Linked DNA regions of Homo sapiens: regions 2, 3, 4 and 5 are each reported to be linked to region 1. Evidence: microRNA targets listed by miRTarBase, many of them from high-throughput screens and not tested one by one. Region 1 holds a microRNA gene; each other region holds the end of a gene's coding sequence. Distances are between the middles of the regions.
What was found. The annotated mature microRNA hsa-miR-186-3p reads GCCCAAAGGUGAAUUUUUUGGG and lies in region 1 at 3,195-3,216, opposite strand. An mRNA with a match to its seed (bases 2 to 7 or 8) in the 3' UTR can be bound and repressed. Matches are read on the target gene's strand: a 7mer-m8 pairs with bases 2 to 8, a 7mer-A1 pairs with bases 2 to 7 and ends in A, and an 8mer does both.

Region 2: the mRNA of CFAP68 is a reported target of hsa-miR-186-3p. Seed matches in the 3' UTR shown: 8mer at 4,179-4,186, 8mer at 3,502-3,509 and 8mer at 3,175-3,182.
Region 3: miRTarBase lists GGA2 as a target of hsa-miR-186-3p. Seed matches in the 3' UTR shown: 7mer-A1 at 3,161-3,167, 7mer-A1 at 3,851-3,857 and 7mer-m8 at 4,780-4,786.
Region 4: miRTarBase lists FAM217B as a target of hsa-miR-186-3p. Seed matches in the 3' UTR shown: 7mer-A1 at 3,124-3,130 and 8mer at 2,281-2,288.
Region 5: miRTarBase lists MRTO4 as a target of hsa-miR-186-3p. Seed matches in the 3' UTR shown: 8mer at 1,015-1,022.

Annotation. Positions count from the first base shown.
Region 1 is chr1:71,064,448-71,069,552 of GRCh38, forward strand. It overlaps MIR186 (microRNA 186), which reads right to left and starts at 3,269; the gene lies at 3,184-3,269. It overlaps ZRANB2 (zinc finger RANBP2-type containing 2), which reads right to left. Exons shown (of 10, transcript NM_203350.3): 8 at 4,829-4,915; 9 at 2,329-2,487; 10 at 1-690. The coding sequence ends at 627. It overlaps ZRANB2-AS1 (ZRANB2 antisense RNA 1), which reads left to right. Exons shown (of 3, transcript NR_038420.1): 3 at 2,319-2,737. RefSeq lists a silencer at 4,056-4,105.
Region 2 is chr11:111,883,309-111,888,413 of GRCh38, reverse strand. It overlaps CFAP68 (cilia and flagella associated protein 68), which reads right to left. Exons shown (of 4, transcript NM_022761.3): 4 at 2,439-4,643. The coding sequence ends at 4,534. Among named protein-coding and RNA genes, the nearest start is that of CFAP68, 6.3 kb to the right of the region's middle.
Region 3 is chr16:23,463,303-23,468,407 of GRCh38, reverse strand. It overlaps GGA2 (golgi associated, gamma adaptin ear containing, ARF binding protein 2), which reads left to right. Exons shown (of 17, transcript NM_015044.4): 17 at 708-4,866. The coding sequence ends at 818. Among named protein-coding and RNA genes, the nearest start is that of COG7, 13 kb to the right of the region's middle.
Region 4 is chr20:59,944,444-59,949,548 of GRCh38, reverse strand. It overlaps FAM217B (family with sequence similarity 217 member B), which reads right to left. Exons shown (of 4, transcript NM_022106.3): 4 at 869-5,105. The coding sequence ends at 4,454. Among named protein-coding and RNA genes, the nearest start is that of FAM217B, 6.6 kb to the right of the region's middle.
Region 5 is chr1:19,258,003-19,263,107 of GRCh38, forward strand. It overlaps MRTO4 (MRT4 homolog, ribosome maturation factor), which reads left to right. Exons shown (of 8, transcript NM_016183.4): 7 at 475-551; 8 at 679-2,126. The coding sequence ends at 828. Among named protein-coding and RNA genes, the nearest start is that of MRTO4, 8.8 kb to the left of the region's middle.

The DNA of each region.
Region 1 (5,105 bases):
ATCCCACTTCTCTCCTTGTAGACATCACAAGATTCTTTTGCATTAAATGTGGAGCAAAAAAGTAAAGCTGGATAAAAGAGACACAATGATTCTAAGGCACCCTTAGCATAGGGAATTTCAAAATAGACATTTACAGTTGGCTGCTTACAACATAGTTTAACTTTTTTTGGTGAGAATCACTCTGACATCTGTTAACAGCATAAAAAGGCTGACTTTCTTTTCCATAAGTATGTTGTTTCCAACTAGTTTCCAGTCTTTCTTCCATGCCCAAAGTTCAGGCAAGCCTAGGTAATCCTGTCTTAGCCAATGGACAGGATGTATTTGGAAATGACAAAAATGGGTTTAAATTAGGAAGCAAAGTACTTTGTTATAGCTGAAATGGTTTTAAATGAAGCAAATGGTTGTAAATAATGAATGACAGAACATCTATTTTGGGACATTATGGCTTAAAATGCTATTTACTTTTAACTTCACAAATAAACACAGCTGTATTGTTTTGAAAAGCAATGAAAGGCATGCACCTCTACTAGCAGATTTAGCACTTCTGACCAAGTAAGACACCAACTTCTTTAAAAATATGCTTCATGCACTGTACTGGATTTTTTTAAGATGTAAATTTTAATACATTATTTCTTTTTTGAACTTGAACGGGAACCAGAATGGGATGATCCAGATGATGACCTGTGGCGTCTGTAAGACATAATGGAGAGAGTAGGCATTCTAGTAAGCTAGAGCTAAATCTCAGCATTCATTCTTAAGACTGTGAAAGTATACAAAATTCAGTACCATGATGCTAGCAAAAAAATTAAAAATTGAGATAGGAACTTACACACATAAAATTATCTGATGTTTAGACTTTGGATATGAGCCCAGTTATCATATAAATACAATAAAAAATTCTCTACAATTTCAAAAGAATCTCATTTCAAAATATAGCCACCTCTCAATTATTTAAGATATCAAAGAAAAGCCTTGCAAAAATGTGTAAAATTACAGAAAATGTACAACAAAAGCATATAAACTTGGTAATGGAAGTGTGACTAAACCAATCCCTGTGACACGGTGTAGAAAGTGTAAGAAGTCTATTATGTAAAAAAGATACAGCAAGGCTTCTGTGTATGAGAAAATATACTCATAAATAAGTTTTGGAAATCTAGGTCACACAAGATGATTGTACAATTTGCTATAGGGTTATATTCATGCAGCTAGTATGAATAAGTCAATATCAACCTGGGTAAAGTAGTGGTGTTCCGTAGGGGTTGGCCCTGGGCTCAGGGTTGTTTAGTGTTTTCACCAATCACCTGGCTTATGGAATAGAGAACATGTTCATTAAGTTTAGATGACAACAAACTAGGGGGATTATATGTGGCTAAGATAAAAATTTGCAGAAGTGGTAAGAAAGCAACAGAATGAATTCCACTCAAAAACAGAGTAATTTTTTTTACAAAGAAACAAATGCAGAGAAACAAGACTGTGTGAAATCTTAACATCTAAACTCCAAAATGTGAAGAAGCAAAACTAATCATTCTGTACAAGTAGGAATCATGAGATAATCCTACCACTGAACCCAGCAATTAATAGACTTTACATAATCTTTATTTTCACAAGCTAATAAAATATGAAAAATTTGCAAAGACTACAAATAAAGCCATTAAAATGACTATATAATTGGGAACAAAGAGAAAATTAATGAAACTGAGTAATTAGCCTGTTGCAGAAAAGGCTGACAGATGACAGTTGCATTCTTCCAATATTAAAAGTGTCAGTACAGATAAAGTAACCTAATATAGGCCTTTCTCAAAAAAGATTTGGACTGCAAAATGAAAAATGTATTAGCTACAAGGAATAATTTCCTTATAGACAAAGGGCATGAAGCAATTTGCTGTGGAAATGCATTTACACATATTTAAATGAGGACAGATTCCCAATGATCTGAAAGTTAATTTTTTATTAGATGCTCTAGAATTCTTGACTATTAGTATTTAAAGAAGCCTAAGTATAAAAGTCAACTCATAAATTACTTCGACATACAGCTTCTGAATTGCAATCTCAAAAGACAGAAATAACCGAGAGTTGGCTATAAAAATTATAAATGGAACTAAAAATTTAAACAATAAAATGATCAAAGAATGGTTTGATCTACAATTCTAAACAACCTGATCAAAGTACAAAGGATAAGCAAAGTAATGTTTTTTTGAAGTTCAAAGTTGAAAAGTAGAAAGTCGGAACACAAGAGATAATAAAAATCTAACCCTTGACTAGGAAAGTTTACTTTATCTATTAAACACACTTAAGAACACCCATTCTTATTTCTACAGAAACCCAAACCTTTCGGGTGACCGTGATCTTGTTCGTCTTTTTTTGCGATCACCAGATGAAGAAGATCTAGAACGACTTCTCTTTCTGTTCCTCTCAGGAGAAGATGATGAACTTGAATAAGATCTTTTTCGTGGGGAAGAAGAGCCCCTGTGGGACCTGGAGCTGGATCTTCATTGATTGAGAAACAAATCAAACATTTCATTAAAAGAAGAAATAAGGAAGATTATTTAGTTATCAGATAGCTCCAAAAATAAACAGGATTTATAACAACTATGAAAATTTTATAAGGAAGAATACTTACTGCTTATTCAACAGAAGACTTCTGGATCAACCATGAAAACATTCTACTTAAACATTTTAATTTTGTCTCTTTAAAATTCTATCATGTGTAATTAAAACCCTGCTTACTATATCAAAATAGAATTTAAACTTTTTTTAAGGCTTTTCAAAGTATACACAAATATTATAGTATTATAAAATCAGCAGATAACTGCATTAACAGGACTTTACGTTTAGGAACTACATCCTTCCATTTGAGGATTAAAATATGTATCTTATATACCACTTCCTGAGGAAAATAAACATAATTCCATGTGGAATTATTCAACTCATTAAACTGTTATGGAAAAACCAGGTATATGGCACAGCAACAAAAGACTAGTAACTGTACTTAACTGCTAAATATTCAAGAAGAAATAAAAACTAACTTTAAGATGATTTATATTTACAATACTATTTTTATGAAAACCCACTACTTATGAAATATGAAGTGTTGACATTCACATGCTTCAGGTAGAAGTAAATGTGCAAATGTTTAAATACAAATTTTTTTTCTTCACTTGTATATTTTGGTTGAAGGAATTTAGCTCAAACTTCCCAAAAAATTCACCTTTGGGCTTAAAATAAAACCAGAAAGCCCAAAAGGAGAATTCTTTGGAAAGTTACAAGCAATGAAAAAATGTTTGGGAAGAATATGATGGGTGTTCTGTAAACCTTAATTATAATGGTTCCCAAAGGGAATACCAGAACTTAAGGATTTTTACCTATAAAGCGCTTAAATATTGTTACTAAATAATGGTAACAATAAAAAATAATTTGCTCTCTACTTCTATTTTTTTTTTTTTTTTTGAGACAGGATCTTGCTCTGTTCCCCAGGCTGTGGTGCAGTAGCATAAGCATGGCTCACTGCACCCTTAATCTCCAGGGCTCCAGTGATCCTTCCACCTCAGCCTATAAGAACACACCACCATGCCTGGCTGGTTGTTTTAATTTTTATTTTTAGTAGACGAGGTCTCACTATATTGCCCAGGCTGGTCTTGAACTCCTGGGCTCAAGCAGCCCGCCCACCTTGGCCTCCCAAGGTATTGGGATTACAGGCGTGAGCCACTGAGCCTGGCCTTGTTATCTATTTCTTATTGGCTTATAATGCAAGTGTGCACAACATTCTTTTCTCCTTAACATGATTATACTGTGGCAGCCCTTTAATGCTAAATTTGATTCAAAGCAGCAAATACTTTTACCAAAACAGCCACAGTTAGACTTCAATATGAATTTCCACAAATATGGAATTTCATTTTCTTATTTATTTTTTAGATGCCTTTAGGTCATAATAAATTAACTTAAAAACAAAGAGAGCATATTTTGACTAAACAAAGAAAAATTTCCTGCAAGAGCATCTTTCAAATTATGTTTCCCTCTACAGATGTGACTACATGCAACCTGAAACTTTAGAACACTGTTTACTACTTAAGACCACATCCTATCTCAACTAACCGACTATACTTCCTGATTTAGTTTTGAGTGTTTTGTGCTCTATAAATAATAGCGTGTGTAAAATTAGAAAGGAAAATGTATATACAGTACTCTAGTAACTTTATCTGATATAAATGGCAAATTTGTTTCTGAAAATATTGAAACAACTGCCGTGCAAAACAGGACCTGTTTTGAGGCAGGGTTATTTTTCTTCCTTTTAATAATGAAGAAAATTTTTCTTTTTATTTACATATGTAATTTTATTTGAACTACTATTAATTTTTTTTTTTTTTGAGACACTCCTCTGTCACCCAGGCTGGATTACAGTGCTGTGATCAAGGTTCACTACAACCTTGAACTCCTGGCCTCAAGTGATCCTCCCACCTCAGCTTCCCAAAGTGCTGGGATTATAGGCATGAATCACTGTGCCTGGCCATATATAATCTTAATATACTAGAGATGTGGCGATAAGACTTGGCTTCATCTTCCTACTTCATAACATCTTAGTGCCAAAATAATAAACGCTGCATATTGCAAAATAGCCACCTGATTTCAATCATGGGAATGTCTTGGCACACTGCTGGCAATGGAAACATTTCATGGTGAGAAAATTAAGCTGAGGCAAGTGCATTAGTTTTCTAATGCTAAAATAAAATCGACAAGTAGAAGCAAAATAAGGGGAAAAAAAGCAGCAACACCTTCTGCAGCCTTTAAATATTTTTCTCTCTGCTTTACAGAGAGATGCTACCTCATTCACCTTGATTTCGACCCACGAGATCTCGAACGTTCTCTGGAACTGGAACGAGATCTTGACTGCGAACTGGAAGAACTTCTTGAACGGGACCTGGAACAACATGGAACGATTTTTTTTTTCCAGGACCATTTAATTGAGCTTTGTGATATGAACACTGAAAGAAAGATATGTATTAGAGTTCATTTTCATATAAAAAGATAACTATACAAGATATATACTTTCAAAACATAGTATTTTAAATTAGATAAGATTTAGTAACAAAAGGTAATTAAAAAAATAT
Region 2 (5,105 bases), not on the chromosome of region 1:
ATGGAAAAGTTTGGCATTTTCAAACTGTTAAATTAGAATTATTGGCTAGGCGTGGTGGCTCACGCTTGGAATCCCAGCACTACGGGAGGCCGAGGCAGGCCGATCACTTAAAGTCACGAGTTTGAGATCAGTTGGCCAACATGGCGAAACTTTGTCTCTACTAAAAGTACAAAATTTGGTGAGGCTTGGTGGTGTGTGCCTGTAGTCCCAGCTACTTGGGTGGCTGAGGCAGAAGAACCGCTTGAACCCATGAAACAGAGGTTGCAGTAAGCCAAGATCACGCCACTGCACTCCAGCCTGGGTGACAGAGTAAGACTCTGTCTCAAAAAAAAAAAAACAAAAAAAAAACAAAAACATATAGAAATTATGGTATGATCCAGTAATTCCATTTCTGAATGTATACCTCAAAGAATTGAAAGCAGGGCACAAACAGATACTTGTATACCAATGTTCATTACAGCATATTTCACAATAGCTAAAAGGTGAAAACAACCCAAGTGTCCATTAACAGATAATGGAGAAGCAAACTGTGGTATATATATGCATGGAATATTATTCAATCTTTTTTTTTTTTTTTGAGACAGAGTATCGCTCTGTCACCAGGCTGGAGTGCAGTGGCGCAATCTCGGCTCACTGCAACCACCTCCTCCCAGGTTCAAGCGATTCTCCTGCCTCAGCCTCCTGAGTACCTGGGATTACAGGTGCACACCACCATGCCCAGCTAATTTTTGTATTTTTTTAAGAGACAGGGTTTCATCATGTTGGCCAGGATGGTCTCAATCTCTTGACCTCACGATCCGCCCGCCTTGGCCTCCCAGAGTTTTGGGATTACAGGTGTGAGCCGCTGTGCCCAGCCTATTCAATCTTAAAGAAGAGGAGGCTGAGGTGGGAGGATCGCTTGAACCCAGGAATTTGACACCATCGTGGGAAACAAAACGAGACCCTGTATCCAAATTTGTTTTAAAAAATTAGCTGAGCGTGGTGGAATGCACCTGTAGTCCCAGATACTTGGGAGGCTGAGGTGGGAGGATCCCTGGAGTGTAGAAGTTTGAGGTTGCAGTGAGCTATGATCACACCACTGCATTCCAACCTGGGTGACAGAGGCTGTCTCAAAACAAAAAGGAAGATACATGGTATAACATACATGAGCCTTGAAAATATTACGCTAAGTAAAATAAGCCAGACACAGAAGGACAAATATTACACAATTCCACTTAAATGAGGTACCTAGAATAGGTAAATTCATAGAGACAGAAAGTAGAATACAGGTTACCAAGAGCTGAGGGAGTGGGGGTCGGGGAATGAGACATTATTGTTTTATAGGTACAGAGTTTTAGTTCGGGATGATGAGAAAGTTCTGGAAATTGATAGTGGTGATGGTTGCACAACATTGTGAACATTGCACAACATTGTGAAAATACTTAATGCCACTAAATTACACACTTAAAAATAGCTATAATGGGCCACACATGGTGGCTTATGCTTGTAATCCCAGCACTTTGGGAGGCTGAGGCAGGTGGACTGCTTGAAGTCAGGAGTTTGAGTCCAGCCTGGGCAATATGGTGAAACCCTGTCTCTATGAACAACAACAACAAAAAAGCTAAAATGGTAAATTTTATGTTATGTGTGTGTATATATATACATACATATATATATATATATATATATATATATATATATATATATATATATATGTATAGGTTTTTTTTTTTGAGACAGTCTCGCTCTGTCGCCCAGGCTGGAGTGCAATAGCATGATACTGACTCACTACAACCTCTGCCTCCTGGGTTCAAGAGATTCTCCTGCCTCAGCCTCTGGAGTAGCTGGGATTACAGGTGCCTGCCACCACGCCCAGCTAATTTTTGTATTTTTAGTAGAGACAAAGTTTCACCACATTGGCCAGACTGCTCTCAAACTCGTGACCTCAAGTGATCCGCCAGCCTCGGCCTCCCAAAGTGTTGGGAGTACAGGCATGAGCCACTGCGCCCAGCCATGTTATGTATATTTTACCTCAATTTTAAAAATGTGCTAGATACATAGGAAATAGAATAAGACATACGATATGTAAACTTAAAATATGTGTCTATAAAACAATATTTGTATTGTAAGAACATACAAATAAATTATTAGAATTAATGAGAACTCAAATTCTAAAACTGACCTAATGATGCAATACCGTTTCAATCAATATCCTAACAGTGTCATTTTATGGAGCAAGCTGATTCTAAATTTTATATGGAAATGCAAAAGTTCAAACATAGCTAATATTCTTGAAGAAAACAAGACGAAAGCATTTGATCTATTAGGTATTAAGATATAAAATAATAATAATGTAATAAAATTATCATAATTAAGATGGTGCAATTAAGGCATCATAACTAAGATAATACAAGGAATGACAATTAAACTAATAGAACATAGTAGCCCAGAAACAGACCTACATGTACATAGTTTATTTACAATAAAAATGGCATTGAATAGGAGTGAAAAAATTATGGTCTTTTCAATAACTAATGGTGGGACAACTTGATAGCCATTTAGAAAAAAAAAAGAAACTTCCTCACTACTGAGTAACAACATAAATTCTGGATCTATATCTCGAAACTAAAGTAACAAAGGTTTGAGAGGTAATATATGGGAGATAAAAAATATCTCCTTGCTTACGAGGACAACATATGGGCAGTATCTCTCAGTAATGCCCATATATTATAGTGTCTTCTTACACAGTAGATAAAAAAATAGGAAATACTAATCAGTTTAACCATATTAAAATTAAGACTGTTGATTTCCTAAGTTTACCAAACCTAAGCTATTCACAACCCTTTCTCAGTCTCTACTAGTTCCCTATTTTGACTCATTTTAAACCAGTTGGACCCTTATCTCAAATCCTTATAAATACCTTACTCTAACATCCTCCCTTTGAATCATTACCAAGACTCTGTGTCAAGTTGATGGTCTCCTTTGCTACACTACAATAGGTTTAATGAGCTTTGTTTAGTCAACAGGTTTCCTTAGTGACCTTTGTTGGGGGGGAGTAGACAATTGACAGTCCTTATCTTTTTGAGAAATATACTGAAATCTTTAAAAAAATTTTTTTTGGTAGAGATGGGGTCTTGCTATGTTGCCCAGGCTGGTTTTGAACTCCCAGCCTCAAGCTATCCTCCTGCCTCAGCCTCCCAAAGTGCTGGGATTAGGTGTGAGCCACTGTGCCCAGCCAGTATACCAAGATTTTTTTTTTCTTTTTCTTTTCTTTTTTTTTTTTGAGACGGAGTTTCGCTCTTGTCGCCCAGGCTGGAGAGCAATGGCACCGTCTCAGCTCACTGCAACCTCTGCTTCCTGGGTTCAAGCAATTCTCCTGCCTCAGCCTCCCAAGTAGCTGGGATTACAGGCGCCCGCCACCAAGACCAGCTAATTTTTGTATTTTTAGAAGAGATGGAGTTTCACCACATTGGCCAGGCTGGTCTTGGACTCCTGACCTCAGGTGATCCACCCACCTCAGCCTCCCAAAGTGCTGGGATTACAGGCATGAGCCACCGCACCCAGCCCACCAAGATTTTTATAGATTAAATTCTATTTCTAAGATCTGCTCCAAAATTAATTCAATAAGACAAAGTAGAAGTAGGTAAGATTAGTCATAAATAGTTGATGCTGGGTAATGATACATGGGAGTTCATTAGACTAGCCTGTCTACTTTTGTTTTACGTAAAATTCTCCATAATAATTTTAAAAAGTTACGTTTGTTTTTGTAGTCCTCAAGAGGGGATGTTCACTAAGGTCACAGCAAAGTTGCACTATACGACTCTGGCTTATACCCAGAAAGCATCTAGCCAAACCTAGCCTAAGTTATGCTAGATTCTGAGGTCTTGCTACGACAGAAGGAAGGGAAGACCACAGTGGTTGTAGACTTCAGAGAAATAATTCTTTTTTTTTTTTTTTTTTTGAGACAGAGTCTCGCTCTGTCACCCAGGCTAAAGTGCAGTGGCATGATCTCAGCTCACCACAACCTCCACTTCTCAGGTTCAAGCGATTCCCCTGCCTCAGCCTCCTGAGTAGCTGGGATTACAGGCGTGAGCCACCATGCTCAGCTAATTTTTGTGTTTTTAGTAGAGACAGTGTTTCACCATGTTGGTCAGGCTGGTCTCGAACTCCTGACCTCACGTGATCCACCTGCCTCGGCCTCCCAAAGTGCTGGGATTACAGGCATGAGCCACCGTGCCTGGCCTAAAATAATTCTTTTTAAGGCCCTTCTACAACACCCCAAATGTAGAACTGAGTTGCTGTATTAAATTTGACATTTAAATCTTGGTTAAAACAACAACAAAAAAAGGGATAAAGAATATTTACTGTGTTTTTTGCTTTATTTATTCAGAGAGTGAAACTGTGTTACAGTGAGCTAAATTTTTAGCTGTACTTAGAATGTGCTCCCTCCTACATTTCACTCTGGAAAAGTGAAGTATCTTATCATTTCTTAGAAACCTGGATGTGAAACTAGTCAATATTAAGATCTTATACACATCCTGAGTGATGCCCAATTTAAGGCTTTGAATAGCTATTCATGTAAGTTGACTTTTCTGTGCATTTGTATCGGGGAGGATCCAGTTCAGGTTGATGTCCTGGGAACCAGTGAGGCTCTCGCTTAAATCCTGAGGGAAGAAAAAAAAAGGAAGGAAAGACAAATGAAAACAGTCAACACTAAGGAGTTTTAGTAACTGATCTTGCTCTTATTTCTAGGGAATAGACAGTAAGTCCTGTTAAAATTGAAGAAAAAATCCTGTTTACTCATTCATGTAGTTATTCACCTTTTTTTTCTTTTTTTTTTTTGAGATAGAGTCTCACTCTGTCACCCAGGCAGGAGTGCAGTGGCTTGATTTCTGCTCACTGAAACCTCCACCTCTCGGGTTCAGGTGATTCTCCTGCCTCAGCCTCCTGAGTAGCTGGGACTACAGGCATGCGCCACCAAGCCCAGCTAATTTTTGTATTTTTTTTAGTAGAGATGGGGTTTCACCACGCTGGCCAGGCTGGTCTCAAACTCCTGACCTCAAGTGATCTGCCTGCCTCAGCCTCACAAAGTGCTGGGGTTACAGGTGTGAGCCACTGCGCCCAGC
Region 3 (5,105 bases), not on the chromosome of region 1:
TCAAGCGATCGAGACCATCCTGGCCAACATGGTGAAACCCCATCTCTACTAAAAATACAAAAATTAGCTGGGCATGGTGGCGTGCGCCTGTAGTCTCAGCTACTCGGGAGAGTGAGGCAGGAGAATTGCTTGAACCCAAGAGGCGGAGGTTGCAGTGAGCCAAGATCGCACCACTGCACTCCAGCCTGGTGACAGAGCGAGACTCTATCAAATAGATAGATAGATAGACAGACAGACAGATAGATGAAAGAGAGAGAGAGGGAGGGAAGGAGGAAAGGAAGGAAGGAGAAGAGAAAAAGAAAAGAAAGTCAGTCTCTGGTTTGGTTGGGTGTTAGGGGTATATGTGGAATATCCCTCGCTGGAGTCTGTCTTTGGGGCTCACTGAAGGAAGATCAGATGGATTGTCATAGCTGGGGACCAAGGGAGGGACACATGAACTCTCCCTAATCCTCTGGAGTCCTCTGAAAGGACAAGGTCTGTCTTCCTTAGCTGGTCTCTGAATTGCAGCCCATCTCAGGATTTCAGGACTGCAGAATTATCGAAGGGTTCCCAGGATATGTGCCTGTTTCCCCTTGTTTGTAGTCCCAAAGAGAGTATCCCAGGTATTTTGTGTCAGAATTGTTTGAAACACTCACTTGACTTAACATTGACCCCTGTTCCTGGGTTGCTCTCCACTGATTTGACATCTTCTGTCTCTTCTGTCCCAGGAACCTATCCGCTTACGGTACAAGCTGACATTCAACCAAGGTGGACAGCCTTTCAGCGAAGTAGGAGAAGTGAAAGACTTCCCAGACCTGGCTGTCTTGGGCGCAGCCTAACTTTTCACAAGATGGACCCTTCATTTCAAGCTTAGGCTGGCGTTACTTTTGCTGTCTAGTCAGGACTAATCACGGTGTTTCAGTGCGGAGTGCCAAGAGTCCTATCCTGACGTCAGGCTCTGGGTGTCAACCTCTGACTTATTCTGCAGATGCTCTGTGTGTGTGTGTGTGTGTGTGTGTGTGTGTGTGTGTGTGTGTGTGTTCGGGGAGAGGGTGGTAGCACAGGGCTTGGGATATCGGCAGTGTGGGAAATGCGAAGCATTTCTCATCATCATCATCTCTGCTACAGTCATGTTTCTGCATGTCAGCGAGCGACACTGTCCCTGCCTCAGGTTGGAGGTTTTATCAGCCAAAGTGTTTTTTTCATGTATCGTTCGTTCCATTCATCCACTCTGTGCCTTGTCAGCCTTTGAAAGGCTTGGTTGCTCCCAGGCTGCTGTTCTCAGGGACCTTAAAAGGGACCTGGTTAGTCTTGGGGCAGAGAGTATCTACTTGGGCACTCTCTTCCAAGAAAGACCTTGTCTCCATTTTCATTAGACAATGCTTCTTGTGTGTGTTCTGGAAGATCTTCTAAATGGAATGCTTGTTGCACTGTTCCCAGGCGAGTGGCTGCCATGAGACCTGAGGACCACACTTGGGGGACCAATCATGTCCTTCACCACTGTGCCTTAGAATCGCCCCTGGACAGAGTTCCTGGGCAGAGGGGAAAGCAGCTCCCAGGCCTTACTCAGGCCTCAGGTCCATGGGTTGGGCAGCCAGTCTGGGCCCTTCTCAGGATCCTCATCTCCATCCTCATCCTCTTCCTTCACAGCATTTACTTGGAGCTCTTTGTGACACACCATGTCAGTCATGATGAATCGGCCAACAGCCAGCCCTTGCCAGCTGACGTCACAGTCTAAGATGGGAAACTGTGGTACAGATAGACATGAAGAGAGCTTAGCAGTGATTGAGGTGGTGACTAAATATACAGTCATTGAATAAATACCATGTAGCAAGTGTACTTTGTGGAGTGTTGAGTAAGTGGAAAATGGAAAGCCAGTTGCATTTAGAGATGATAGGCCTAAAGGGAACTGTCTTCTGTCGAGAAGTAAAGGAAACTTCATGAAGGATGTAGAAGCTTAGCTGCCTCAGAGAAGAGAGAACCTGAAGATCTGAGGCAAGCTGGACAGGAGAGGTGGATATTTGTTGATGGAAGAATTCAAGTTTATAATCAATTCCCACTTAGCACCTACTGTGTGCTAGGAACTTGAATGTGTATGTTTGACAAGTCCTGCTTGGCCTGATGGGTGGGAGAAGGAACCTGAGCCTGGCTGAGATGGCTAGGCGGAGGGCTTTGAAGTCCAAGCAGCTGAACTGGCTGGGTGGGTTTCTACCTTTGAAACTGCAAGACTTGTTTGGAGCTCTTAATTACAATATCTGATATTTTTACAGTCTGATCTTTTGACTTCTACATATAGTGGAAATCTGCCAATACTAATTGGTGGAGATGGGAACTGTAAAAGATCAAGTATGCTAATTTTAAGCAAATGTAAAAACTCATAAAACAGGTAAACAGTGGGGTGATTTCATTTGCCATAATTCACATAAGACGAATTTTAATCTAAAAGTACTTTCTTGCTTGTATTCTGTGTGGCTTTTTTTTGTTTTTTGAGGCCATATCTCACTCTGTCACTCAGGCTGGAGTGCGGTGGTATAATCTCAGCTCACTGCAATCTCTGCCTACCAGGTTCAAGCGATTCTCGTGCCTCAGCCTCTCGAGTAGCTGGGACTACAGGCGTGAGCCAGCACGCCCAGCTAATTTTTGTATTTTTAGTAGAGACAGGATTTCACCATGTTGGCCAGGCTGGTCTCGAACTCCTGACCTCAGGTGATCCGCCTGCCTTGGCCTCCCAGAGTGCTGGGATTACAGGCGTGAGCCACCGCACCCGGCCTCTGTGTAGCTTTTATAGGCTCTGTTACTGTTGCGTAGTCTTGAAGAGGTACCCATCATAATGACAGCATCTCCCTCTGAAGGGTTTTGGTCAAAATGGGTGAATGAGACTTATACATAAAGACAGGCTTTCTCCCCTATAGTTAGGAGGTGAACTCACACATGTGTACCTGAACATTCTTGCTTTTGAGGAGACAGACTCCCAGTGGTACTACTATGCTTAGGTGTTGGACAGGATAGGGGTAGGAGGAGAGGAGGCAGGCTGCTGTCCTGAAAGTGGCTGTGGTTTATGGCATCACTCCCTTCTAATCAGCAAGTCCAGTGGCCACTTAGAGCCCAGCTCCTACCTCTTCATTCACTTAACAAGTAGTTATTGGCTGTGCACAGTGGCTCACGCCTATAATCCCAGCATTTTGGGAGGCTGAGTGGGATGACCGCTTGAGCCCAGGATTTCAAGTCCAGCCTGGGCTACATAGTGAGACCGTGTCTCTGTTTTTTTAAAAGCTAGTTGTTGACCAGCTACCCTGAGCCAGGCACCACCCTGAAGGAGCTTCTTTTCCTCTGGGGAGAAGCAAATTCATGATGTGTGTGCTGGAGATCTGGCACTCATGGCCAGTGCTTTCCAGTATCTTGAACTCTTCGGGGGTCCTGTTGACCCATTTCGTGACCTACCTCCGTGACTGCTCTTTTTCCTCTGTCTCTTAAGTGTGATGGTTTTCCAGAGTCCAATCCTCAGGACTTTCCCGTCCACACACAGGCCTGGTAGTCAGGTGGCTCTAAACCATTAGGTGGGTTGTAGACCTCTCTCAAGCTGCCACCTCCTTGCTGTCGCCAGATCGTATTTCAGTCTGTCAGGGGTTATCTGTATCTGGAGGTTCCACTGTTGCTTCAGTCTCAGTTACTTAGAATGGAACCCAGAGTCCTGCCCCTTTCCACCTACATGCTCTTACTTGAAAGCACCTGAGACTTATTGGGTCCCTGATTCCTGCTTCGTCTGTATCCGCAGAGTAGTTGCATGTCATTTGGCCTGTTTTCTAAATAATCCCACATCATGTCCTCCCTGCACTTACATTGCCACTGCTCTGATTTGGGCTTTTTTTTTTTTGGGACAATGCCTCTGTCCCAATTCTGAGTAACAGCTCTGGTTCTTGCCACTACCAGAGTTCTCTAGCAAATCTGAGCATCTGACAGGGTGAAAAATTCTGAATGGCTTCCTGATGCCTGACTTTATGGGATCAAATTCAAGTTGCACGCTGGCACTCAGTGCCCTTCTGGTATCATCTGCCAAGACCAGGGCCTGCTTCACCACAGCCACAATAAAGTCCTTTCAAGCCCTGATAATGCCATGTTTTGTCCTAACCTTTTGCTGCAGTTAATTACTCTTCCTATTATCTTCCATGAACTTAAGACTGGGCAAAAATGTTTCCTTATCTGTGAGCCACTCTGAACACAAACAGGTCATGAAGATAGTGTTGAAAACAATAAATGACAACCAAAAGAAAAGTGAATATTACCTAGTACAAATAGTGTAAATTGAGACAGAAAATGTTAAAGCTAGAAAGCAAGGGCAATATTCTAGAATACAAATAGTGCTTGCCTACTACAATATTAATCCCAAATCCTTTAAATATACCCATTATAGAAGATGCTTACCCAGCGTCAAGAGTATAAAAGTGGGTTTGTTTGTTTTCTTGAGACAGGGCTTTGCTCTGTTGCCCAGGCTGGAGTGCAGTGGCGTGATTGTAGCTCAATGCAGCCTTGAATTCCTGTGTTCAGGCGATCCTCCGGCTTCAGCCTCTGGAGTAGCTGGGACTACAGGTGCATGCTGCCACGCCCAGCTAATGTTGCAGTTTTTCGTAAAGACTGGATCTCTGTGTTACCCAGGCTGGTCTCCTGGGCTCAAGCAGTCCTCCTGCCTTGACCTCCCAAAGTGCTGGGATTACAGGCATGAGCCACCATGTCCTGACCCCAGTTTGTTTTAAAGCCAAGCGATGCACCAAGATGTTTGTGTGCACATCTGACAGTGGTAATCTTTGGGTCAGGGAATTATAGATAAATTTTCTTTAAATTTTTTCTGAGCTTTCTAAAATCAGCTGAAAATAAAACCTTATTTTTTTATGCTCAGTGTCGTCTTTTTTAAGATAAAGACATTGACATGATTCAAAATTATGAAAGGTGAAAATTCTTCCCACCCAGTTACCATCCTCTGTCTTTTCAGAGGGATTCTAGGCATGTTCAAGAAAATATAGTATACTGTTCTGTGTTTTGTTCTTTTCATGTAACACCATAGATAGCTTGGAGAAAATGCCATTATCAATATGAATTACTTAGAAACATAACCCCGCTCTCTTCCCTGA
Region 4 (5,105 bases), not on the chromosome of region 1:
CTGGATACAGTGTTTTATGATGTGAGACTGTTCAATGAATCAAAGAGAATCCTCCACAGCACCTAACTGCATATGATAAACCACTGTATTCTCTGATGGCAGAGTGAAGTTAAATAAAGAACATGCTTTGGGCCTGAAGTCAAAAAGTCTTTTTCTCTCCATTTCTTTTTGATTCCAGTAAAAACCTTTTTATTTGACTAGAAGGTACTCACAGGCCAAATTCACTGCTATCTGAAAGGGTTTGGTCGCCACCTTGTGGATAATAAAACAGCAACAGCCCAAAATAATACATTTCCTGTACAAAAAAAAAAAAAAAAAAGATTTTAAACCTCCAGCGTGGTTAATTTTCAAAACATATCCAAAAACTTACTTTTTAAGCCACTGAACATTACTGCCACAATTTGGTAGACTCAAAAGAATGCACCCTATTGTCAGAGTGAAGTTAGAAAGAAGAGCAAAGGGCTTTTGAGAATGTTTGCAGCTGGAGCTGCTCAAAACTGCTATCTCCTAACCAGGCCACTTCCTTGAAAGAGATGGTACTCGTTTCCGGATATGTACATAAAGGTGCAAGTTCATTACATCACAGGTTACCTTAATTTATGCTTACTGAATTTGCATCCTGCTACCCTAATTAATCCTCAACATGGAGTAGTAAGTGGAAGAGCGACTCAAGAAATGTACTGCAATGCTTCTCTGATATATCCGGTAATGTTAACCTGTGCTTTGGCCACCCATGTCGCTTAGTGTTAAGACAGGAGTTGTAACAGCATTTCATCCTGGGCAATTCCTTTAAATAACCAGGGAGAAAATAAAGGCAAGCTTCAGAAGAGAACTGCATGAAAAGCAAAACAAAACAATACCAGAAAAATCCAGACAATATTTTTCTGCTGTTTAATTGATCTCAAGGAAGGAGAAATTCAAGTCCACAAAAACTTACATCAATTCTGTTTATCACATACAAAACTAAACATACAATATAACAGCAAATAACAAACATGCTGAATATTTTCAAGCCATTTTGAATGGTGTCCTGTACATGTACATAAATAATACATACTGCTTCTGAATTACCTTAAAATACAGTACCACCAAGAGTTATATTTCTATGTAACTACTCCATAAGTGAGCATAAAGGAATGAGGAAGTAGACGATATCCATATCAGATAAAGTAGAAAGTCTTATGTCCTTCTGAAAAGCAACACAGTAGGCCCAAGAACAACTACAAACCATTTTCCTTTTAGCTAGGAGGTATATGGCAAGACCAATGATATTCTCTTCCCCATCCTTTTTGTCACAGGGTATGAAGTCTATCCTATTCAAGTTAGTTACAAGTCTTCAGCCCATTTAGTCATCTAAGAAGTTGAGAAAGTCTAAACCTAAGTAATCACAGCAAATACTGCAAATACTGATATACTTTTAGTTCATTTTTGTACTTTTTTACATTTTTTCCATTAGATAATTCTAAGCCTAAAATATTTTTCTTTTTCTTTTTCTTTTTCTTTTTTTTTTTAAAGAAACTTGGATTGTTTTAATTGGTTTAAATGCAGGGTATATGTAAACAACTCCCCAGAAATGAGAGGCACTTCTCGGAAATACAATAACCCATGTCACTAGACTAGCAAAACACTCAGTGCTTTTGACTTGATGAATTGAATGAGTTCATGATTCAACTTTCTAATGTTGTCTACTTGAAAAATAGCAAGATTCTTATCTGCAGCATTTAATGCATTAAGATGTATTAGATAGGCATATCAGATATCATAAAATTAAAATTGTGCTTATGTTAATTCTGTAATAGACCTAACTTTAAAACACCTCATGTTATTCACTAGGAGCTATGATCTAGTCGTGACAATATTGGTTAAAATAGTCAATCTGAGGCAGAAAGTAAACAAGCAAAGTCACTTTTGCAGGCTTTTTAAACTGTATAACACATGAAATTATGACTATTCCCCAGATTATGCAACCAGCTTCAATTTAAAAAGCTGGGAACAAATATTATGAGGCGTTACTTCTCAATTTCTTTCTTTTTCTTTTTTTTTTGAAACGGAGTTTCCCTCTTGTTGCCCAGGCTGGAGTGCAATGGCACGATCTTGGCTCACCACAACCTCCGCCTCCCGGGTTCAAGAGATTCTCGTCTCAAACTTCCGAGTAGCTGGGATTACAGGCATGCACCACCACACCCGGCTAATTTTGTATTTTTAGTGGAGACAGGGTTTCTCCATGTTGGTCAGGCTGGTCTTGAACTCCCGACCTCAGGTGATCCGCCTGCCTCGGCCTCCCAAAGTGCTGGGATTACAGGCGTGAGCCACCACGCCCAGCCACCTCTAAATTTCTTAATCACGATTGTTTTCAGCTCAGACATACACAAGGCAAGTAGAATTACTAATAAATCACTTTACCCTCAACCATTCAAGGTCTCTAAGAGCATGCACATGGATACATGACGGGGAAAGGCAGCAACTCAGCATAAACACTTTAGTATTAACATAAGGAGTATATATACATATACACATATGTATAGAATATCTTGCTTTTGAATATCTATGGGCCATGAAACTTCATAGAGAGCTGCATAAAAATCTAGCAGAGAAAGGATCATAAGTGAAGTGCCAGCCATGGATAACAGACTAATCTGTGCTCACAAAAAAGGGCAGGCAAGGAACACACAGACATCACTCAGGAACTACAGGAAAACTAAGCGTAGTGCTGTTTTCCAAATATAAAACATATACTAAGTACAAAAGTTATAGTAAATTTGAGGACTACGGAAGTAATACTTACTATATGTACATCTTTTGTTCACATAAAAAGCTTAAAGTAAGATCTTAGCATAAAAGTATGCTTTCTCCAGTAGGATGGTGTGAGAGGGAAAGAATGTAAGAAGGAACTTGTACAAGTCTGAAAATTAAGTCTTGAAAGTAAAAGGCTACCATAAAAAATATTATGTCATTTGGTATGATCAAAATCAGATTTTAAAAGACCTTAAAATATAACCCTTGCACATTGTTTTTTATAATTATATACGTATAATTAGAGCTACATAATCTTGTCTTTATGCTGTTTTTGATATTTTTTCAGACATTTACTGCTGTCTGAAAAGTTTACAAGCTATTATATGTTCCCAAATGAAAAATGCCAAGTTTTTCATTTGCCCCCAAGGTGAAAAAATTGAAACCTCTACGTCAAAAACAAATACAGTAATTGTTTAAAGGGATAAAATCAACTATAATGACATGGGCCGTATTAAAATACACTGCGCAAATATGAACAGAAAACTCACAGCACAACTATAGGAACAAGAAGATGTTATTTAACTGCAGTGAAATAAGAAGGCTTGGAGAGAGTTGGGAAGCCTGAAGACCAGATAAGCGAGTTTAGAATTCATTCAGCAACCTTACTCATATTCCACTCTCCCGCCCCTCACCCCAAGCAAAATAATAAAATCCTGCTCTTGCAAACTGAAACAGATCATTATTTTTGACTAAGGACCACAGGGTGTGGAACCCAAATCAGTAACTTTGTAACTATTACACTGAATGTAGGTCCATGTGTTTTGATCCTTTTACAGGCCCTTCCTTTACAAATTGTAAAGAGTGATTTCCCTGGGGTGCCTCTCTGGAGAAGCTTTACATGCCAGCAATTCCAGAATGTCAAATATTTCATTCTCAGCCCCACCAAACAGCAGTAATCATGCTAAGCCCATTGACTTTGGAAAATTCTGCAAGTTATTTTAACCTCAGTTCGGAGAACTCAAAAGTAGGTTTTACCACCACCTCTAAGTTTAAAATGCCCCTCAAAAAAGAAAAAAAAAACCATGTCAGAGAAAATGTATTAAAGTACTAGATTCCACTGTCTCTCTAGAAAGCAACCAGCTTAGTGAGAAATGACTACTCAAAATACAAACTCACTACTCCCTGACTTGAGGAAGAACTAAAGCTTCTCCTAAGGGTAAAATGAACAGAAATTTTGCTTGAGGAGTTTATAAAAAAGTAAGCGAGGGAGTGGGCAAGAAGGACCTTATTTTAAACATTTAGGATTCCACACCATTTGAAACAGTCTGCACTATTTCATATACTTACGTGCATGTGAAAATGGGGAGGTAACACCACTAGCTGCTCTACACAGACCGGCTACTGTAGCTGAGGTTTCACTGACACTTTCCCTGGAGAGGTGCCATTTTATTCCTTTATATGGCACATATTTTACATAATTTTTATCTAAAGGGCTCTCATTTGCCTAAGACTGACAATACAAAGAAAGGCTTATTGAAAGACACTTCCCTTTGAAAATAACCCCACTCAGGGTAGAAATAAAGGTGGACAAAAATGCCAGTCAACTACTTAAATGTCAGTATTTGTAAAATTCCTTAAAATTCACAGTATTTTGACTTTTGGAAGCGCTCTAACATTGAGGTACCTGCAGGTCTTGGCAATTCAGCATTTTAGATATTTATTTTAGTTTATATGTGTTTTGCTTTACTCCGTTTGTTTTCAGTTTTTTCTCACTCGATACAGTGGCATGACCACAGCTCTCTGCCTTTCCCTTTTTCCTAGGATGTGCATGTGCTTGTGTTTTGGAGGCCTTACAGGAATCTGCTGAGTCCAGAATCACAGCTGCCTGTTTGGGAACTCGAATGTGACCGCTGGTTTCCACCTTAGAGCTGCTTCCACTGCCGGACAGATCCCAGCGCTGCAGCTTCGTACTCTTACTTGATTTCTTTTTCTTTTCTTCTGTCCTCATTTCAAGGGTTTGCCTCTGAGAACAAAACCTGGTACCACCAAGCACATCAATGGGTCTAGGGGAAGTCTCAAATGCATAATGTGATGGGTGGATTTCTTCATGGTGAAAAGCTTTCTTTCGGGAAGGGCCTGACTTTGAAGCCCCTTCCTGGTGAGGTAGTGGCTTGGACAGAGCACTAGCAATTAGCTTACTTCTCCCAGGGCTTTTCAGTGCCCCTGAGGTCCCAGGGGCAGTGGGGGGCCTTGCTTTGCCCCCCTTTGCTTTTTCACACTGTACAGTCTGGACTTGCAGCCACTCAAGCTGAATAAGTCTATCGATATACTTCCCAAGAAGTCCTCCCACTCGGGGCACGGCTTCCGTT
Region 5 (5,105 bases), 52 Mb from region 1:
CCAAAAGGTCACAGCCTAGAGTCCAAGAGCACGGGCCTGCAAGCTCATCCCTTTCTAGCTGAGCAAGTTATTTCTACAAGCTTCCATTTTCTCATGAGAAAATGGGGCTAAGAGTGCATGCCTCACAGTGGGGGTGAAAGCAGACAGTAACTTACAGCCAAAATGCAGCCCTTGAGGCCCATCAGGGGCCTTGCGCTTGTTTAAAAAAAAAAAAAGTCAAAAAATTAGACAGCCATGGTGGTGTGTGCCTGTGGTCCTAGCTACATGGGAGGCTGAGGCAAGAGGATCACTAGAGCCCAGGAGGTCGAGGCTGCGGCAAATCAAAGGGACCTCAGGGAGACAGCCACTGCCCAGTGTGTGTTGGAGCCGTGGGGAGGGCAGGTGGCTGACTGGATTCCTCCCAACATGACCAGGGCAGAGAGGGCTCTGCAGGCCTCTGGGCCAGAGGTAACTGAGAGCCACCCTCTTCTGCAGGTGTGGTGACTCTGCTGTCTGACTACGAGGTGTGCAAGGAGGGCGATGTGCTGACCCCAGAGCAGGCTCGCGTCCTGGTGAGTCTGGCGCCTTGCGGGCTGTTGCGGGCGGGGTTGCTGGCTTTCCTCTGCCTGCTGAAAATGCCCCCCTGCACTTTGAATACCTTCATTCCTCCTGATTCTTTGTTCCCTTTGTCTCTTGCAGAAGCTTTTTGGGTATGAGATGGCTGAATTCAAGGTGACCATCAAATACATGTGGGATTCACAGTCGGGAAGGTTCCAGCAGATGGGAGACGACTTGCCAGAGAGCGCATCTGAGTCCACAGAAGAGTCAGACTCAGAAGATGATGACTGAAAGGGACTCGGGACTGAAGGTCTCCTGGAAGCTTCTGGGTCTCACTGGACCATCAGGACTGCTGCCGCCCCTCTGGAGAGAGCAGCTTTTTATTTGTCTGTAGACAGGGAACATGATGGGCACTGACCTCCTGTAAAGAATAAAACTGTGGGCCGGGCGCGGTGGCTCACGCCTGGAATCCCAGCACTTTGGGAAGCCGAGGTGGGCAGATCATAAGGTCGGGAGATTAAGACCATCCTGGCTAACACGGTGAAACCCCGTCTCTACTAAAAATAGAAAAAAAAACTAGTTGGGCATAGTGGCATGTGCCTGTAGTCCCAGCTACTCAGGAGGCTGAGGCAGGAGAATCACTTGAACCCGGGAGGTGGAGGTTGCCGTGAGTTGAGATTGGACCACTGCTCTCCAGCCTGGGCAACAGAGTAAAACTCTGTCCCAAAAAAAAAAAAAGAATACAACCTTGCAGGATGTCTCTCCTGGAGACAGCAAGAGGGAGAGGAGGGAGAGGGCTCTTTCTTAGAAAAGAGGCCTTTGGTGAGCCCAGAAGTTTGAAACCAGCCTGGGCAATTCAGCAAGATCCCGTCTCTACAAAAAATAAAAAAAAATTAGTCGTGGTGCCACTTGCCTGTGGTCCCCACTGCTTGGGAGGCTGAGGTGGGAGAATTGCTTAAGCCTGAGAGTTGGAGGCTCAGTGAGCCATGATCATGCCACTGCACTCCAGCCTGGGTGGCCATTGAATTCTGCGTGGATTGCCTCAGTTTGCCTTGTCAGCCAACTTCCACTGGCTGCCTTGGCACTGCCATGACAGCACAGCTCCACACCAGAGCTGGGGTTTCTCTTCAGTCCTGGGTACCCCTTGGCAGAGGGATTTGCTGAGGAAAATTAGGTATCCTTCCTAGCCCTCCACACACTTCCAAACCAGGGCTGCGGATCTGATGGATGCCAGGAAGACAGCCTTGGGCTGAGAGTGACATCACTGCAAGAGTTGAGAGCCAGCGTCTAAAGTGTCCACGGCATCCTGGGAGGTTTTATCCTTGGTGACTCTAATGGTAGATTTTTGTCCACCTTGTTCTATTTGCTTTTGTTTGTTTTTGATTTTTCTGTTTTAAAATTTTAAGGAGAGATGGGGTTTCACCATGTTGCCCAGGCTGGTCTCAAACTCCTGAGCTCAAGCGATCTACCCACCTTGGCCTCCCAAAGTGCTGGGATTATAGGTGTGAGCCACCGCATCCAGCCCACATTGTTCTATTTGTATTTCATGAAAGCAGTTCTGAATGAGAGTAAATCAGCTTCAGGGTGTACAGTGGCCCTCTTTTTTCTGCCATGCATGGAAGAGGGCCACCTCCAGCCCTGCTGTTGGGAGGTCAGGCTGGGTCCCACGGTGTGGGGTGACCTTCACAACGGCATTGTGCCTCTGACACCCTCTCAGTGCCTCTGTTCTTTGGAGACTTCCTACTCCCGCCCACTTCTCACCACGCCCTTGGGAAGGACAGCAGGAAGCAGGCTTCGGGCAGAAGAGGAATTCACCATGTTCACCCAGGCCTAGGCCAGGTCAAGCACCAGCCTCAGCAGGAAGTGCTGAAGGAGAGCTCAGGCCCGGCCCTCTCGCCTTGTGAGGATGACTGGGAAGACTGCACGAGTGTAGGGGAGGATCTGCAAACCGGGCTGAGAGGGGAAAGCAGCCTACAACCATTTAAGGCCAAAACTGGCCAGGGGGAGAGAATGAAGGGTGGCAGGTGGTGCCCTCCGCACCTGAGCCAGGTCTAGCCAGACCTGGAGGAGGTAGTGGGATGGTCAGGTGCCAGGCTTGGTCGGCGGCCTCTGTGACAGCCGAGTCCAGGGTCCCTTTGCTGCTGCCAGTTTCTCCAATTGCTCCATCCAGGATGACCACGTCCCTATGCATGCCCTGTAAGGGAGACAGCTAGACTTCAACACATTTCTGCTGCACAGTGACTAATCATGCCCCTCCCAGCCATGGCCCCGCCGCTAACTGGGCTCTGGTTATTCACGTATGCCTTGCATTACTGCTTGCAAACAGCCATGACCGTTGGGCTTTAAAGCCCTGCCTCCACGCTGTCTCAGCTTTAGACAGCTGACTTCAGAGCCACTCATCTGCTGCTCAGCAGCTGGGTAAACCCAGGTCAGTCACCCAGCCTTTCAGCTTCAGACTTCAGGCCGCTTGTCTGAATTAGAAATTGTGTGAAGCACTTTGCCTGCAGACCAGGCACGTAACGTGCTCACTAAAGGGAAGCCATAACCATATAATACCCAAGCTGGAGAAGGGGGTTAGGGACAGCAGGGAGAGGGAAACCCTGCCACTACACACAGGGTTGGGCTGTCTCCAGGGTGGGCAGCCAAGGAGCCAGGAAAAGCTAATGGTTAAAAATGTAGGTTTCAGACCAGATGCAGTGGCTTGCACCTGTAATCCTAGCAATTTGGAATGCTGAGGTGGGCGGATTGCTTGAGCCCAAAGACTCAAGATCAGCCCAGGCTCAGGCCGGGCACGGTGGCTCATGCCTGTAATCCCAGCCCTTTGGGAGGCCGAGGCAGGCGGATTACGAGGTCAGGAGATGGAGACCATCCTGGCTAACACGGTGAAACCCCGTCTCTACTAAAAATACAAAAAATTAGCTGGGCATGGTGACGGGCGCCTGTAGTCCCAGCTACTCGGGAGGCTGAGGCAGGAGAATGGCTTGAACCTGGGAGGCGGAGCTTGCAGTGAGCCGAGATCACAGCACTACACTCAGCCTGGGTGACAGAGCTAGACTCTGTCTCAAAAAAAAAAAAAAGATCAGCCCAGGCAATGTAGTGAGACCCCTGTCTCTACAAAAAATACAGAAGTTAGTCACATGGTGGTGTATGCCTGTGGTCCCAGCTACATGGGAGACTGAAGCGGAGCATTGCCTGAGCCCTGGAGGTCAAGGCTGCAGTGAACCATGATCAAGCCACTGCACTCCAGCCTGGGTGACAAGAGGAAGACCTTGTCCCCCCAAAAAGAAAAACATTAGTTTCAGTCAAACCCACGTTCGTTCCCTACCATGTGTAGCTGTGGGACCCTACACAAGTGAAATTGCCTCTGAGCCAGTTGCCTCATGTAAAACTGAGATGACCATACTTAACATGGCCATCGCAATAACTAGTGTTGGTTACCTGGCCGCTTAAGTAATTTGTGTAAGAACAGGTTTACCCCACCCAAAAGAACTGGGCCATGGAGAGCCTTCATAGGAAGAAAAGGACTTAACTCCTCTTGGTCAAAGTGACCAAATGACTGCATAGCCCTCGCAGCTTCCCCAGTCTCCCCACCCCCACAGAATTTGAGAGAAGCAGCTGAGCATCTAGAGACAGCTGGGTTACCTGCAGCTTGCGAGTGGTCCATCGCAGGACAGTCAAGGCCATGCCAGGGGCACTGGTGCTATATACACAATCTGCAGGACCTGCTCCACCAGGGCCATGGCCTTGAAGTGGTGCTTGTTCCAGAAGCTGGGTTGGGGGAGGGTATTGCACGGGGGTCAGTACTAGGGGTCATCTCAGGGCGGTTGCCTGCACCCAGGTCCCTGAAGCACTGAGGGGCTAATGGCTTCTAAGTAGACATCTTACATTTTTGAGCATCAGAATGCATGCATGTTTCTGGGCCCCTCATCCGTGTTCTTGGGTGGCTAGAGGGGAGGCAGTGGGCGAGAATCCTTGCATTTGGCCAGGCGTGATGGCCACACCTGTAATCCAAGCCCTTTGGGAGGCCAAGAAGGGAGGATTGCTTGATGCCGGAAGTTAGAAGTCAGCCAAGATAACGTAGGGAGACCTCCTGTCTCTACAAAAAAAAAAAAAAAAAATTAGCCGGGCGTAGTGATGTGCGCCTCTAGTCTCAGCTGCTCTGGAGGCTGAAGCAGGAAGATCACTTGAGTCTGGGAGGTAGAGGCTACAGGGAGTGGTGATCGAGCCCCTGCACTCCATCCTGAACAACAGAGTGAGACCCCATTTCGAAGAAAAAACCCTAGCATTTAACCTCACCAGGTGTTAAACACCCGCCACCTTAGGACCCCTCAGCACCTACAGCACCACACCTGTGTGCCCTGGGGGACACAAGGACCCATGACAAGTCCTGATCTCCAATCCTGGCTCTGCGGCCTTGGCTGAGCCACCTGCCCTCACCTGCTCAGTGAGGAAGGGAAATGCCCCATGCCAGCCCCATGTGCTAAATGCCAAGTATAAAGGTAGTAAGGGGCCTGGCCAGCTTTGCACACTGTAAAGAACAGATGGGATGAAACCCAGCAGGTCTCGAT